Linked DNA regions of Homo sapiens: region 1 is linked to region 2. A link means that fine-mapping ties the variant in region 2 to the expression of a gene that starts in the linked region. Tissue or cell type: whole blood. Region 2 holds a variant in brackets; the other region holds the start of a gene. All regions are shown on one strand. Distances are from middle to middle.

The links. PIP is the estimated chance that this variant, and not a neighbour inherited with it, causes the effect.
Region 1: GLIPR2 starts here. The variant in region 2 is fine-mapped to the expression of GLIPR2 in whole blood (TOPMed, PIP above 0.99).

Annotation. Positions count from the first base shown.
Region 1 is chr9:36,132,967-36,141,070 of GRCh38, reverse strand. It overlaps GLIPR2 (GLI pathogenesis related 2), which reads right to left and starts at 4,338. Exons shown (of 5, transcript NM_022343.4): 1 at 4,280-4,338. The coding sequence starts at 4,292. RefSeq lists silencers at 4,037-4,086, 4,117-4,686.
Region 2 is chr9:36,317,887-36,325,990 of GRCh38, reverse strand. LOC102724322 (a long non-coding RNA gene) reads right to left here. Exons shown (of 5, transcript XR_001746660.2): 5 at 7,526-8,104. Among named protein-coding and RNA genes, the nearest start is that of GNE, 63 kb to the right of the region's middle. The variant C/T (reference allele first, on the strand shown) is at 4,874.

The DNA of each region.
Region 1 (8,104 bases), 180 kb after region 2:
TCGGACAGGGACAGAAACCTTTTGGGCTTTGGCTTTAGAAGAACCTGTTCCTGCTCCTTCCGGGTCAGGTCCCCTCCTGCCCTGCCTTTACATTGACGTTTGATGGCCTTTTTCAGTCCCTCTGAGCTTGGATATTTGCTAAGTGAATGAGTGAGTGAACAAATGAATGAGGTTCTCACTCCAGCACAGCGAAGGCGGGACAGGATTCCTCTCTTCATTACAGATGAGGAAACTGGGGTGTTTGGATGGTGGGGGGCATGCGCATTGTCCAAGACCACACAGAGCCCACATTAGAGCCGGGTGTAAGAATGCCCCTCCCTTTACCCCCTCCCCTGCTCCAAATCTCCCACACTTTCCACTTTACGAATTGCTTCCTCTTTTCCAAATGGCAAGAATGATGTCTATGACGAGTTGCTCAATTGCTTACGGGAACAAGGCACCCCCTTCCCCCAAGCATCAGCCTCCCCTAGGCTGTCCCTCTCCATAGACAGTGGTTGTAATTGAAGGGGAGGCAGCCATTTTCCAGCCCTGCCTGCCTACTGTCACTCAGGCACATCCCTACCCCTCTGGGCCCCAGGTTTCCCATCTGTGTGTGAAGGAAGGATGACATCTGTGGTTTTCATAATATCTTCAAAGCAGGGAAACCCTTCCTTTGAAGGAAACCTTCAATAAAAGCAACAGATGAAAATGAAACTGCTGGGGTTGGCCTGGCCCACACAGCTTCTCCCTGCAGAGGCCTGAGGGTCCCACTCAGTAGAAAACTCCTGGGCTCGTTGGTCCCTAAAGGCCTCTCTGCTCTGATTTCCTCTGGTGCTAGGTGGATGGAGGGACACTAATATTCTTAGAGCTGATGAGAGGGTGTGTGGAAGTCCCCAGTGGCCTAGAGTTCAGGCTGGCAGGGAGCAGGGTGTCAGGGCAAGTGGTCAGTGTGGGAGAGAGGACAGGACACAGTAGGGGAGTCAGAGAGCTGAGTTCAAATTCACTGGCTTGCTTACCTGTCAGTGTGTGAGCTTGGGCAAGGTACTCAACCTCTGTAAATCTATAGAATGAGTTGATAATAACTGCCTGGCAGTGCTGTCACTAATATGGTAACATAGAAAATACTGAGCTCTTTGCCTGGCATGCAGTTGAAGATTAATCATTGGTGTCACCAGTATTAGGGACAGGAGGCTTCCACTGAGCCCAAGGTCATTGCCTTTCTCTTCCCCACCACACTTGCTGCACACCAAGTCCCAGCAGAGAAACCACAGCTGGGAGCAGGATCTGGGAGTCTTCGATCACTAGGCCAAGCGTCTTCTGGAATTTCAACTGTGCCAGCTGTGTGATGATTTTACAATAACGCCTGTTATGCCAAGCAGCTCTGGGGTGTATCTGAGGTTAAAGATGAAAAAGAGACTGGCTCCTGTGCAGTGAGGAGGAAACTGAGGCCCAGAAGGGGCAGGGACAGATTCCTTATGATGGTCTTTACAGAAGCACACAGAGCCCCTGTGAGTGCCACCTGCCCTATAGACACAGACAGCAGCCCTGGGCTGACGGCCTGGAACTTCAAGGTTGAGCTTGAGTTGAAGGACCACTGGGCACGGGGTCACCCAGAAAAGTCATTTTCTTTTAGGGACCCTAGGAGAGCCAGATATTAATACTATTCTGGGGGCTCTCGGTTTTCCGGTTGGGGTGGGGGAGTTAAATTAAATGCACGTGACTATGAGGGAGAAAGGCCTGGGTCAGAATTCTGCAAGGTCCCTGGGTGTGTGTGTGTGTGTTAGGGGTGGAGGTGGCCTCTGACTCAACCAGTTCTAACCTGCTTTCTGCCACTGGCCCCCTCCTCTCCTGAGTGAGAAGTAATCTTCCTCTGAAACCTGCCCAACCCTGCATCTCCAGGCATGGAAGCCATCATCCCATCGTGCAGGCCTCTGACCCTTCCCTCTGCTTCACAATAAGTTGTCACCAAGTCTGCCCAAGGCCACCATCTCACAAATCCATCCCATCCTCCTCTCCAGCCTCCACCCTGCCCTGGATGCCTCTGTCATCTCCTGTTTGTGACTGCGGCAGTCTCCCCTATCCTCCCTCCACCTTCTCTCCATCCATCCGATCTACCCTACACCCTGGCAACGCTCTAGTTACGCTGCTTTCAGATCAGTGCCTTTCCATGGCACCCCAGGTTCCATAAGATGAAGTCTAAATTCCCAAGACCCTCTGGGATTTGACCATCTCCTCCAGGAACCCTCGTCGGCTCCCACGCGGAGCAGTCTCCTCACCTTGAGCTCCCACCACCCTTCACCAGCACCTGTCTTGTGGTTTGGATCATTTTCCACCTCTTACTCGAGCCAGATAGTGCCTGTCTATCCCCTACATAGCTTTATGTATTCCTTTCACAATCCAAGTGGATGCACGCCCCGGCACTGGGTCCACAGCTTGATACAGAGCTGCTAGACAGTGCAAGGGAGGGAAGGAGGAAGGGGCGAACAGACAGAAGAATGGGCACACAGCTGAATATGAGCAGTTCTGGAAAACCGTGCCTTACATAAGATGCCAGAAACAACTGATTAAGGTGTAGCCTAGGCTGGGCGCACCTGTAATCCTAGCACTTTGGGAGGCTGAGGCAGGCAGATCATGAGGTCAGGAGTTCAAGACCAGCCTGACCAACACGGTGAAACCCTGTCTCTACTAAAAATACAAAAGTTAGCTGGGCGTGGTGGCGCACACCTGTAATCCCAGCTACTCAGGAGGCTGAGGCAGGAGAATGACTTGAACCTGGGAGGCGGAGGTTGCAGTGAGCCGAGATCGCACCACTGCACTCCAGCCTGGGCAACAGAAGGAGACCACGTCTCAGAAAGAAAGAAAAAAAAAAAGTAGCCTAAGGGAATTTGTGGATTTTCTCCACAAATTTCTACAGAGAAAGGAGTTGATTTCCCAAGCAGATATCTCGAAAGACTCGCTCTCATCTGCCATACTTTTGCTCCATCACCATCTGTCATCCTGTTAACTAAATGGCAACCCATTATATCACCTTTCCATACTGTGAAGAACCCCAGGGCTCATACGGCCACCCTCATTGTACAGACAGGGAGGAACAGAGGGAAGGAGGCTTGCTCAGTATCACACAGCCAGTGATTGGCTGGGCCAGGGCTGAAAGCCAGACCTGCCTCTACAGCCTAGGAAGGCTGGTTAGGACCAAGGCCAGGGAAAGCCACTTGCGCCCAGCGCTGGCATCTCCTGAGTCCAGATCTTGGAGGACAGATCCTAGAAGGGACCTAGCCTTACTCATCTGAAGTGGACAATCCGGATGAAGCAGGACTTCTGAATCCTGTTCAACAGCTGTTCTCTAAGAGCCTCCTGTGAGGCAGAAGCAATGCTGAGATAAACACGGCCCCTGGCAGCCAGGGGTGAGGACCCGGTGGGAAACAGGTCTATGGCTGAACTCTTGTCCCCGGCCCACTACAGGAAGGGCTGCAGCGAGGAAAACACCAGGTTGGGCGCTCCCTCCCGGGGGGAATCACAGATGGGCTCCAGCCCAGGAGCTGAGCCTAGAGGGATGGGATTTTCAGGCTGAGAGTTGGGGTGGTGAAGGCCCGGCAAGGAAACCTAGGGGAAGGGACCTGTGCACCAGCTTCTGGACAGCTCTAGTGTAGGGCGGAGGTAAGGGCTAGGGACCCACTCCCAGGGGCCCGAAGGCAGGACTGGAGTGTGTCCTTTCACTCTGAGGACAATGGTGAGGAAGGTGTTAGGGAGCGACAGGAGGAGAGCTGCGCTGCAGAAAGTTCATCCCGACAGCCACAGTAGAGAGGATGGGGTGCCCCAGGAGAAAGGGAGCCAGACCGAGCCTAGCACAGGGGGAGCCCGGCACGGCGCGGGCGCTCAGGAGAGAAGGAACAACAAATGGATGAGGGGGATGCTCAGGGCTGTCCTCGGGACAGCCGAGCGGGGCAAACTGCTTCGCAGCGAGAGCTGTTGTCACACTTTGGTGACTTTTCCAACTCTAAGTCTGGCCTCCTGAAACAAAGCAGAAGCCACGCCTTGGCGGGCCGCGGCGCGCAGCCCCTCAGGGTCGGGAAGCCCAACTTGGCGCGATCCCCGGCTCTCCGGCGGGGGCCTCCCTCGGGCTCGCCTTCCCCCCGGGTTCCCCGGAAACCGCGCCGGGGCGCTCCGCCCGCGCGCCCTCCACCCGCACCCCGGGCTCCCGCACTCCCCAGGACCTGGCTTGCGGCGGACGAGGGAGACGGCGAGGTCCGGGAGCGCGGGGTTCCGAACCATTCCGCAGCGGGCGAGCCCGCGGGCTCACCTGACTTGCCCATGGCCGGCTCCGCGCGCTCCTCGCTCCCCGCGGCTGCGCTGCACTGCGCTCGCCCGGCCCAGCGCCGCCCCAGAGCCCAGGACCGGGCTGATGCCGCGGCCCCTCCTCCGGCGCCGCCCGGCCCCCGCCTTATAAGGAGCGACAGCTGAGGGCGGAGGCGCCCGGGGCCACCCCGTGGGCCTCCCGGAGAGCTCACCCCTGGGAAGCAGCTCCGCGACTGCCGAGGGCTCCCCGGATGCGGCCGCGGGGCTCAAGCCTCCCGGACCCCACACCGAGCTGTCCCTTCCCGGGGCGCGTGGGGAAGCCCGCGCCTGCTGGGCCCCGGGTGGCTGCTCTGCGCCGACGCGCGGCGAGGACAGAGGGGCGCGCGGTCGCGGCACGAGGGGCGTTCCGGCCGGCGCCACCAGGGGACGGCCTCTCCCTGCCGCGGCCTGACACGACACACGCAGCCCCGGGGTGTGCCCCCATCTCCGGTGACTCTGGGCTCCGGAGGGCGGCTGGTCCGGGGAGGGGGATGCTCCTCTCCTAGGACACGCCCTCTAATGCCAGTCGGGGTGGAAGCGCCGCCGCCTCTGACCCGTCCACTCGCCCCTCATTGCCTCCCAGACCAAGCCAATTCCCACCCCTGCAGTCTGGCCCCAGACCTGTCTCCCCAACGCCCCACCTTTTCCCCATACTCCAGTCAAACTAGATGTCTTGTCATTCCCCAAACATGTTCTGGGATTTCCCACCTCCCTGCCTTTCCTCAGGCGGTCCCTCCTCCGGGAGTGCTGGCCCTGGAGCCACCATTCCAGTGCTGCCCATCCCTCGGGGTCGGCCGGTCTTTCCAACTGCCAGGTGCCCTGACCCTGGGAGCAGCACACACCAGGTACTGGGGAGATGTGGTCCCACCCATGGCCCCTGCCCCGTGGGAGAAGTGCACTTACTTGACCGCACAGCCCTAGTCACCTGTGCCAGACTTCCCGCAAGCGCTCCTTTCTGGGGAAGGGGCTCAGTACACCCCAAATGAAGGAAGCGAATTTTAAGGCTTTTCAATGAATGGGCACTGAAGTGAGCTGACCCACTGATGATAAGGCTAGAATTTGTAATACCAACGGCTTACGAATGTCCCGCAGGGCGATGGCTGGGCACTGTGCTCTCTATTCCTTTCCCCATGTCAGGCAAATACACCTACTGTATTTTAGTACCGTCATGAGTAATGACATTTCAGTCAATGCCAGACCACATATACTGTGGTAGTCCCAAGAGATTATGATACCATATTTTTACTATGTTTCTATGTTTACATCTGTTTATATATGCAAATTTTTACCATTGTGTTACAGTCACCTAAAGTATTCAGTATGGGTCAAATTGGTGCCCAACCCTGATTCAAAAGGGACTCCTGGGGCTGGGTGCGGTGGCTCACGCCTGTAATCCCAGCACTTCAGGAGGCGGAGGTGGGAGGATTCTTGAGCCCAGGAGTTCAAGACCAGCCTGAGGCAATATAGTGAGACCCCCCCTCCCATCTCTATAAACAAACAAAAGGGACTCCTGGTGCTAGGTGGGGATCTAACCCCCTCTATTCAATTCCCTCTCCCATTTTGTCAACAAATGCCTATTGAAATAATCAAATAAACACAGTAGGAAGAATTCCATGTTGCCCCTAGAATCTCTAGAAGGCTGTATTTCACATAACAAAAACTTTAAGGCCGTGGGTGGAGACAGTGAGGCTCAGCGGGCTGCTCACTGCACGCAGAGGGAAGCCCATCTGGGACCACCATGTTTCACTGACACCTTGAGGTCTGAGGACTGGAGGTGAGAGGGGCTGAGAGTGGATGCATTTCCTAACTTAGAAATTCATAACCTTAGCAGCAGGCACATGAAGGAACAGGGTGCTGAATGGAGGGTGTTAGGGCAGTGCCAAAGTCAACCCCGACCAAGGGCCGTGGGCTAGTTGGAGAGGGAGTCGCTGTCCAGGCATCAGACACAAGAGACAAATGGCCACAAAGGTCAGACACAAAGAAGAGTGATTGACCCAATGTATTGTCTTTGTGTGTGTGTGTGTGTGTGTGTGTGTGTGTGTTTTGAGACAGTCTCGCTCTGTCTCATAGGCTGGGGTGCAGTGGTGCGATCTCGGATCACTGCAACCTCCACCTCCTGGGTTCAAGCAATTCTCCTGCCTCAGCCTCCCAAGTAGCTGGGATTACAGGCATGTGCCGCCATGCCCAGCTAATTTTTTGTATTTTTAGTAGAGACGGGGTTTCACCATATTGGCCAGGCTGGCCTTGAACTCAAGTGATCTACCCACGTTGGCCTCCCAAAGTGTTGGGATTAGAGGCGTGAGCCACCCCGCCCAGCCACCACTACTCCATCTTTTAACTTTTAACCGTTTCTTTATATTTAAAATAGACATCTTATAGTTGACAAGATGCAGTTAGGTCTTTTTTTTAAATCCTGTCTGACAATATCTGCCTTTTAATTTGTATTAATACCATTCATACTTGATAACATTATTTTCTTTTTTCTTTTTGAGATGCAGTCTCCCTCTGTTGCCCAGGCTGGAGTACAGTGTCTTGATCTTGGCTCACTGCAACCTCCACCTCCCAGGTTCAAGCAATTCTGCTGCCTCAGTGCCCTCCCCTTGACCCCAGTAGCTGGGATTACAGGCATGTGCCACCACATCCAGCTAATTTTTGTGTTTTTAGTAGAAACGGGATTTCTCCATGTTGGCCAGGCTGGTCTCAAACTCCCGATCTCAGGTGATCCACCCGCCTCGGCCTCCCAAAATGCTGGGTTTACAGGCGTGAGCCAACACTCCCGGCCCGATAACATTATTTTCAAATTTGTATGGAATAAATACAAAAATTGACCAAATGTTAGGTCTTAAACTAAGCTGTAATAAATTCCTGAAAGTAGAAAAAATTCAGTCACATTTTCTGAGCACAATGTAATAAAACTAAAACTAAATAACAAAAGATTGGCTAAAAATTTTTGAATCATCTAGAAAATAAAAAAAATCCCTCTTACAGCACTGAAAGGCAAAATCAAAACACGTTCAGATATAAATGACAATCTGAATACTCTGCAGGCTGGGCGTGGTGGCTCACACCTGTAATCCTAGCACTTTGGGAAGCCAGGGCAGGTGAATCGCTTGAGAACAGGAGTTTGAGACGAGCCTGGACAATATAGAGGGACCCTGTGTCTCACAAAATTAAAAAAAAAAAATTACAAAAATTAGCCAGGTGTGGTGGCACATGCCTGTGGTCCCAGCTCCTCAGGAGGCTGAGATGGAGAATCATTTGATCCTGGGAGGTCGAGGCTGTAGTGAGCTATGATTGTGCCACTGTACTTTAGCCTGGGCAACAGAGCAAGCCCCTGTCTAAAAAAAAAAACAAAAAACAACAACAACAAAAACTTGGTAATTGTTAAGAGTGTGGAACATGGGTTTGAAGTCCTGTGGCCCAAGTTCAGTTTCTAGCTCTGCTGCCCACAGAGACTGTGGCTCTGGTTTGGGTGCTCGGGTTTCTCCATGTCTGTTTTCTCATCTGTAAAATGAAGATAATAATACTTATCTTAGATAATTTTTTTAGCGATGGTGTCTTGCTATGGTGCCCAGGCTGGAGTACAGTAGCTCACTGCAGCCTTGAATTCCTGGGTCAGATGATTGTCCTGCCTCTGCCTCCCAAGTAGCTGGGACTACAGGTGAGTGCCACTGCACCTGGCTTAGAGGATTTTTTTTTTTTTTTAAGATTGAGATCACACTCAAGGAAACTCACATCTACTTCAGTTTCTTTGGGATAAATTCCTAATCTTTCTGGGCTCCTCTCCACA
Region 2 (8,104 bases):
CCACCTGTGCCATCCCAGGGCTGCCTGGGGGCCTTGGGCCAACAACACCTTCTTCAGGACCCTGGGCCTGCTGAGCTGGGCAGGGCTCCTCTCAGCTCTGAGTGATGCACTGCGGAGGCCTGGCAGAGACAGGCCAGAGGAAGGCTGCCGCGGCTCCCATGACTTGCCCAATTCTGGGTGAACCACCTTCCTGGTCTTGTGTATCTAATGAATTAGGTTCAAGTCAGTCATTATTAATCCAGACAGAGTTGACAGCCACCCCGACATACCGCACGCACACAGAAACTGCAACCAGCAACAAGCCCTGGCCCGTGCACAGAACTCAGATGACATCAGCTCCTCGACCGTCCAGGGTCCATGGGGCCCATTGTCCAGAGAGGGCATCGCCTGTCCCACAGGGACTGGCTCATCGAGACTCTTCCTAGGAATCTACCACCCAAACCTGACTTGGAACCAAAGGCCATGCTGGAGGGAAATGCCCCAGAGTCTCATCTCACAAAGATGTGGACGGAAGCTCAGGCCCAGGCAGCCCCAGAGTCTCATCTCACAAAGATGTGGACGGAAACCCAGGCCCAGGCAGCTATTTCTTGAAGCTCCTCAGTGCACTCGGTGAATTGCACAATAAGTAGCCGTAGGGGCTGCTTGGACAAAATGGCTGTGATGAGAGAAAAAGCAGGAAGCTGGCAGAAGTTGTAGGCACAAAGCTGCTGTCACAGCAATCCACCCGTAGGAAGTCCCTGGCCGACCTCACAGGGGCTCGCTCCCTGCTGCTGATCTGCAACGCTAGTTCCGCTTCCGGGCTATCGGCGCAGCTCATAATGACTCTATCCGCTGAGGCCCTCGGGAGTGGGGCCAGGTCAGCGTCCATTTTGTATGACATGACGTGCCCCCTGTGCCCATGGGTGTGCCTTCTCTAGGATTTTGGAACTGAGGGAGGAAGAAAAGAACAGTGATGGCCAGGCGTGGTGGCTCAGGCCTGTAATCGCAGCACTTTGGGAGGCTGAGGCCAGGAGATCGAGATCAGCCTGGCCAACATGGCGAAACCCCGTCTCTACTAAAAATAACAAAAATTAGCTGGGCGTGGTGGCAGGCACCTGTAGTCCCAGCTACTCGGGAGGCTGAGGCAGGAGAATCGCTTGAACCTGGGTGGCAGAGGTTGCAGTGAGCTGAGATCGCACCACTGCACTCCAGCCTGGGTGACAGAGCGAGACTCTATCTCAAAAAAAAAAAAAACCAGGAAAAAAACAAAACAAAAAAAACCAGTAACCGTAGTGGCCACCTTTTCCTGCCGCAAGGCCTAGAGGAGCAGAGAGAGCCTGACTGCAGGAAAAGAGAAGAACAGAGCAGAGACGGAGAGGAGCAGAGAGGGAAGCAGAGCACCCCGATGGAGCATGACCAATGGTCCCTGGTCGTGTCCTACCTGGACCTCAGCTCTCAAGCTCCATGAGACACCCGTGGATCCTTAGGACGAATTCCCCAAGTTTTGGTTTTTATTTTTGAGACAGGGTCTTGCTCCTAGGCTCAAGTCATTGTCCCACTTCAGCCTCCCAAGTAGCTGGAACCACAGGTTTGTGCCACCACTCCCGGCTAATTTTTTAAATTTTTTGTAGAGACAAGAGGTCTCATTATGTTGCTCAGGTTGGCCTCAAACTCCTGAGCTCTAGCAATCTGCCCGCCTCATCCTCCCAAAGTGCTAGGATTACAGGGGTGAGCCACCGCGCCCAGCCAGTTCCCCATGTTTTGACTTGGTAACATAACTCCAATTCGTTGAGAATCCTTATTAACACCAGAGACGTGCCACTAATTAGCAGCGTGTCCATGGGTCATTTGTGTAACCTCTTCAGGCATCATTTCCTCATCTAGCATGTGGGGATACGAAGATACTTCGCAGGATCAAAGGGACGCAAATAACTGAGTGAGAATGAAAGTGCCAACTACGGTATACCCACATGGCAGGCTCATTAACCAACAGCTTTCCTGTGTGAAGACACCTCCAAAGGTCTGGAGAGAAGGTCCTGGAATCATTCACGTATTAATGATACGTGGTTGAAACTCAGCACTGAATGAAAAATCGATTATTTTGCCCTCTAGAGCATTCAGTTTCTTCTAAATCAAAAGAAGCAATATTGTCTTCCGGACTAAGTTCTTGGGTTTACAAATCTAGACATTTTGTCTAATGAACATTTTTCATTGCCTACCAGTAACCATCCCCATTCCTCAAGGCAAATTATCCAATAAAGATAGAGAGCACAAGTCTTTTTTTTTTTTTTTTTTTTTTTTGAGACCAAGTTTCATTCTTGTCACCCAGGCTGGAGTGCACTGGCATGATCTCAGCTCACTGCAACCTCTGCCTCCCTGGTTCAAGCAATTCTCCTGCCTCAGCCTCCTGAGTAGCTGGGATTACAAGTGTGCACCATCATGCCCGGCTAATTTTTGTATTTTTAGTAGAGACAGGGTTTCACCACATTGGCCAGGCTGGTCTTGAACTCCTGACCTCAAGTCATCCACCTGCCTCGGCCTCCCAAAGTGCTGGGATTACAGGTGTGAGCCACCATACCCAGCCAGAGAAACCTTTTTTTTTTTTTTTTTGAGACAGGGTCTTCGCTCTGTCACCCAGGCTGGAGTGCAGTGGTGCAATCTCAACTCACTGCAACCTCCGCCTCCTGGGTTCAAGTGATTCTCCTGCCTCAGCCTCCTGAGTAGCTGGGATCACAGGCACCTGCCAGCATGCCCAGCTAATTTTTGTATGTTTAGTAGAGACGGGGTTTCACCATGTGGGCCAGGCTGGTCTTGAACTCCTGACCTCAGGTGATCCACCTGCCTTGGCCTCCCAAAGTGCTGGGATTACAGGCGTGAGCCACCGCGCCCAGTGGAGTCTTTTTTTTTTTTTTTTTTTTTAAGATGAGGCTCTATGTTATCCAGGCTGGTCTCAAACTCCTGGGCTAAGGGATCTTCCCACCTCATCCTCCTAGGTAGCTAGGATTACAGGCACACGCCATGGCACTCAGCTTTGAAGCCTTTTATAACCTATAGTAACCTTATAACCTAATTGTGGAAGTGACTTGCCATCCCTTTGCTATATTCTTTGGTCGCACAGGCCAATCCTGGTGCACTGTGGGAAGGGACTGCCTAAGGGTGTGGATATCAAGAGGCTGGGATCCCTGGGGCCATCTTGGATGCTGCCTACTACAGAGAATACGTTTCAAGATTTCCTATCAAAATATCCCTGAGGGCAGAGGGGAATGACTGTGAATGGACTCTGCAGGGCCTGCAGGTTTGGCACCAACAGCAAATAGCTCACTACAATGGAGAAATGCCCAGCCAATTTATCCTCTCTTAAGTACATAATAATTACATTACATCCCCGTTACACCAGAAGGTTTAAGTAAATGTGATGCTTTCGGAGCCCTGTGACATACATTGGGTAGGCCCAGTGCTCAACTTCTAGTTTGAAGAGCAGGGCAGGGGAACTTGTTTGGAGACTGGTTAGAGGTCTAGGAAGGCCAAAGTGACAATTGCTTATGAGAATTGGCAACTACAATGCCTGAGGCATTTTTGTTTTTTAACTTATTTTAAGTTCAGGGGTACACGTGCAGGTTTGTTATATAGGTAAACTTGTGTCATGGGGGTTTGTTGTACAGATTATTTTGTCACCCAGACATTAAGTCTTGTATCTATTAGTTATTTTTCCTGACCCTCTCCCTCCTCCCACCCTTCACATCCTGACAGGCCCCAGTGTGTGTTGTTCCCCTCTATGTGTCCTCATCATTTAGCTCCCACTTATAAGTGAGAACATGAGGTATTTGATTTTCTGTTCCTGCATTAGTGTGCTAAAGATAATGGCCTTCAGTTCCATCCATGTTCCTGCAAAGGATATAATCTCATTCTTTTTGATGGCTGCATAGTATTCCATGGTGTATAGGTACCACATTTTCTCTATCCATCTACCACTGATGGGCATTTGGGTTGATTCCGTGTCTTTCCGATTGTGAATAGTGCTGCAATGAACGTATGTGTGCATGTGTCTTTATAATAGAACAATTTGTATTCCTTTGAGTATATACCCAGTAATAGGATTGCTGGGTCGAATTGTATTTCTGTTTTTAGGTCTTTGAAGACTCACCACACTGTCTTCCACAATGGTTGAACTAATTTACACTCCCACCAACAGTGTAAAAGCATTCACTTTTCTCTTCAACCTTGCCAGCTTCTGTTCTTTTTTGGCTTTTTAACAGCCATTCTGACTGGTGTGAGATGGTGTCTTATCATGTTTTTTATTTCAGTTTCTTTAATGATCAGTGATGTTGATTTTTTTTCATATGATTCTTGGCCACATGTATGTCTTCTTTTGAAAAGTGTCTGTTCATATCCTTTGCCCACTTTTTAATGGGGTTGTCTTTTTCTTATAAATTTAAGTTCCTTATAGATGCTGGATATTAGACCTTTGTCAGATGCCTAGTTTGTAAAATTTTTCTCACATTCTGTAGGTTGCATGTTTACTCTGTTGATAGTTTCTTTTCCTGGGCAGAAGCTCTTTAGATTCCATTTGTCAATTTTTGCTTTTGTTGCAATTGCTTTTGGCTTCTTCGTCATGAAATATTTGCCAGTTTCTATGTCTGGAATGGTATTGCCTAGGTTGTGTTCCAGGGTTTTTATAGTTTTGGGTTTTATGTTTAAGTTTTTAATCCATCTTGAGTTAATTTTTGTATATGATATAAGGAAGGGGTCTGGTTTCAATCTTGTGCATATGGCTAGCCAGTTATCCCAGCACCACTTTGAACAGGGAGTCCTTTCCCCATTGCTTGTTTTTGTCAGGTTTGTCAAAGATCAGATGGTTGTAGGTGCGTGGCCTTATTTCTAGGCTATCCTGTGC[C/T]ATTGGTCTATGTGTCAGTTTTTGTACCAGTACCATGCTGTTTTGGTTACTGCTGCTCTATAGTATAGTTTGAAGTCAGGTGGCATGATGAGAGGCATTGTTTATAATATTAATACTAGCACAGGAGCTCACACATGGGTGTGATGTGTATTGCATGCACACTCACACAACAACCTAATGTCCATCAGTGAAAGCCAGTTAAATAAGTGATGATATAGTTATGTGACTGGACATTAAGATGGGATTATTTCTGTCTCCAATTCAGCTGAGACCTCAAAGTCTGAGAATACATAAAAGATGCATAGTTCCCCTGCATCCCAAGGGAGGGGCTGGATCACACATGCAGAACACACTAAGATATTATGAAACCAGGTCTGCTGGCATTAGCGTTCACCCCATCCTACCCATCAAAGGACAGAAGGGTTGATGAGTCAGTGGAGTGCTGAGGCCTCCCCAGCCCTCCCCACCACACCCCTGGGGAGGTGGGAGGACCTGCCTGGGAGGTGGAGTGGCAGGAGGGAGCAGGCTGGGGGGCACTGCCCAGAAGCTGCCCTCCCACTGCCCAGTGCTTAGTGCCAGTGCTCCCGGACCACACCGAGGGACGAGCTGCTTATTCTCGTGGCCCCATATCAAGATGCAGATAAACTGGGAAAGAAGAGAATTTCTATTTCTGTAACCAGGTGCAGGGAGAAGGCCTGGAAATTATCGCCAGACCAACTCAAAATTTCAAAGTATTCCAGAGCTTATATACCTTCTAAGCTCTATGTGTACGTGTAAGTGTGCATTTATCTAAAGACATAAGTGATTAACTTCTAATCTATAACTAAGGTCTGAGTCCTGAAGACCTTCCTCTGGAGCCTCAGTAAATTGACTTAATCTAAATGGGTCCAGGTGCTGCAGTGATTACCCTTATCTTGTCTCCTACTAAATCACAGAGGTTTGGGGAGTTCCTTCCAACCTCCAATAAACTTGTTCGTGGAGGCCTGGGGAGTTTCTTCAGACCCCCCAATAAAACTTGTTTGTTTAATCCTAAACAGGTTTTGTTAAGAATGCCTTCGTTATTTTGTCATGCTTTAAGGCCCAGGAAAGGCCTAGGCGAAACTCTGGGTGGGGTTTTGTTACATTCCAGCTTTTGTGTAAGGACACTGGCTCTACCAGCTTTTAATATTTAACTTCACCAGTCAGTACTGAAATAGTTGTTACGGAGGCCCGCGTTCCTGAGGCCTGGCCTGCCATACCAGGAGGTTGAAAGGAGTGGAAGAGGAACTCTGATATTTGGATTCAAATACTTCTATATTGTCCAACATAAACATGTTCATATGTTACCAAAAAAAAAGGAAAATAAAGGAGTAAAAAAGCATGTACAATGAGCACCTAATAATTAATAGTTTGTTCTAGGGAGCAGCCCTGGGAAAGCATTTCCAGCAATTTCAGATTTTTGTTATGTTTGAATTTTTTTACAATATGCATGTTTTATTTGTAGAAGCAGAAAATAATATCCAAATATAGCATTTTAGAAATAATTATAAAAAGCTACCAGAAGGCCCAGCTCTTCACCCCTCTCCTCCTCCTCCCTCCATTAAACACAGAACTCAGCCCAGCAGGGTAGGGCTGCAGCCCATGGCAGCACTGGGAGAACGCTTCCTTTCTCTGGCTGCCCACACCCAGGATGGGACTTCCAAGCAGGACAGGGAACAGGTCCCTGTTCAGGTCCAGGGATCAGCTGGGACGCCAGCGCCTTGAACCTGACTTCCCCAGGCCAGGACTCAGCCCCCTCCTTGGAACCCCATTGCTCCCCGGACTCTCCCCATCTCAGCCTCTCCCACACTCCACCCGTCTGCCGGCCTGCACCCCAGCTCTGTCCCCTCCTCTCCATCCCCAGTCCACTCACCTTCAGCTGGTAGTGAGCTTTCCCATGAGGAAACTGAGGCACGCTGGGAAAAGGGAGCTACTCCAGGTCAAGCAGCAGCTTAGCAACAGGGCTGGGACCCAGGCTTCCCAGTAGCCGCTATGGTGTGCTTTAAGTAACACCACACACCTGCACAGCTGAGGTGCGCCGCACCTCCCCCTCACTATACTCCTTCATTCCAGATTGAAATGTGCACCATGCTCAGGCAAAAACAAACAAACAAACAAACAAACCAGGCTTTTCTCACAAAATCAAATCAGAAGGTAAGATGTGTGTGGCAGAAACAAGTTTCTTAACTTCCCGAAACCTTATTTTCCTCATGTGGAAAGTGAGTTGAAGAGCTCCTGCCTCATGGCATCGCGGGGGATCTAATGAAACGATGTGGTGCAGCTGGTGCCTCATAACTGGCAGCTGTGGTTTGTTTCTCCCAAAACCCGCCACTCTGGCCCCCAGCCATTCAGGAGCTGTTTTAGGTGGCATTCATTTGGGTGGTGGGGAGCAATGGAACTTTTTCTTTTTTCTGAGACGGGGTCTTGCTGTCGCCCAGGCTGGAGTGCAGTGACGCAATCTCATCTCACTGTAACCTCCTGCTCCCTGTAACCTCTGCCTCCCAGGCTCAAACGATCCTCCCACCTCAGCCTCTCAAGTAGCTGGGACTAGGTGCACACCACCACGCCCAGCTAATATTTGTATTTTTTGGAGGGACGGGGTTTCGCCATCTTGCCCAGTCTGGACTCGAACTTTTGGGCTCAAGCAATCCTCCTGTCTCAGCCTCCCACAGTGCTGGGATTACAGGTGTGAACCACCACGCCCCGTCCCAACGGAACTTTTTCTTCCTCATCCAACAACGTATATATTTGCTCTTCAGTGAGTAAACAGTTGTCCTTTTTTTTTTTTTTTTTAGCAGCACTGGATTCTAGGAAAAATGAAAAATGAAGTGCATGCTTCACTTACTATGCCCCTGTGTAATAAACATCAGCTTTACCGAAGAAGAAACCTGAGGCTGTGTCCACACTGCAGTTATCTTCCTACACTCTCCATTTCTCCTTATTCTACAGATTGGCTGGGGGAAACTGAAGGATATATTCCTGGTGCAGTAAACCTGATGGTCAAACCTTCCCGGAGCTCCAGGGCAGCCAGCTGCTAGGAAGCCTCTCCCCTCTGGCCCACACCCTTCCTGTTGGCTCCTGGCCACACCAACCCATCACCTGGGAGGATGCTGGAGAAACGGGGTTGCCCCAAGAGTCCACGTGTCCTTGACGCATGGCCAGACTCAACAATGGGCTTCTTAATGAAACTGGGAAACTGCAGAGTTCAAGTGG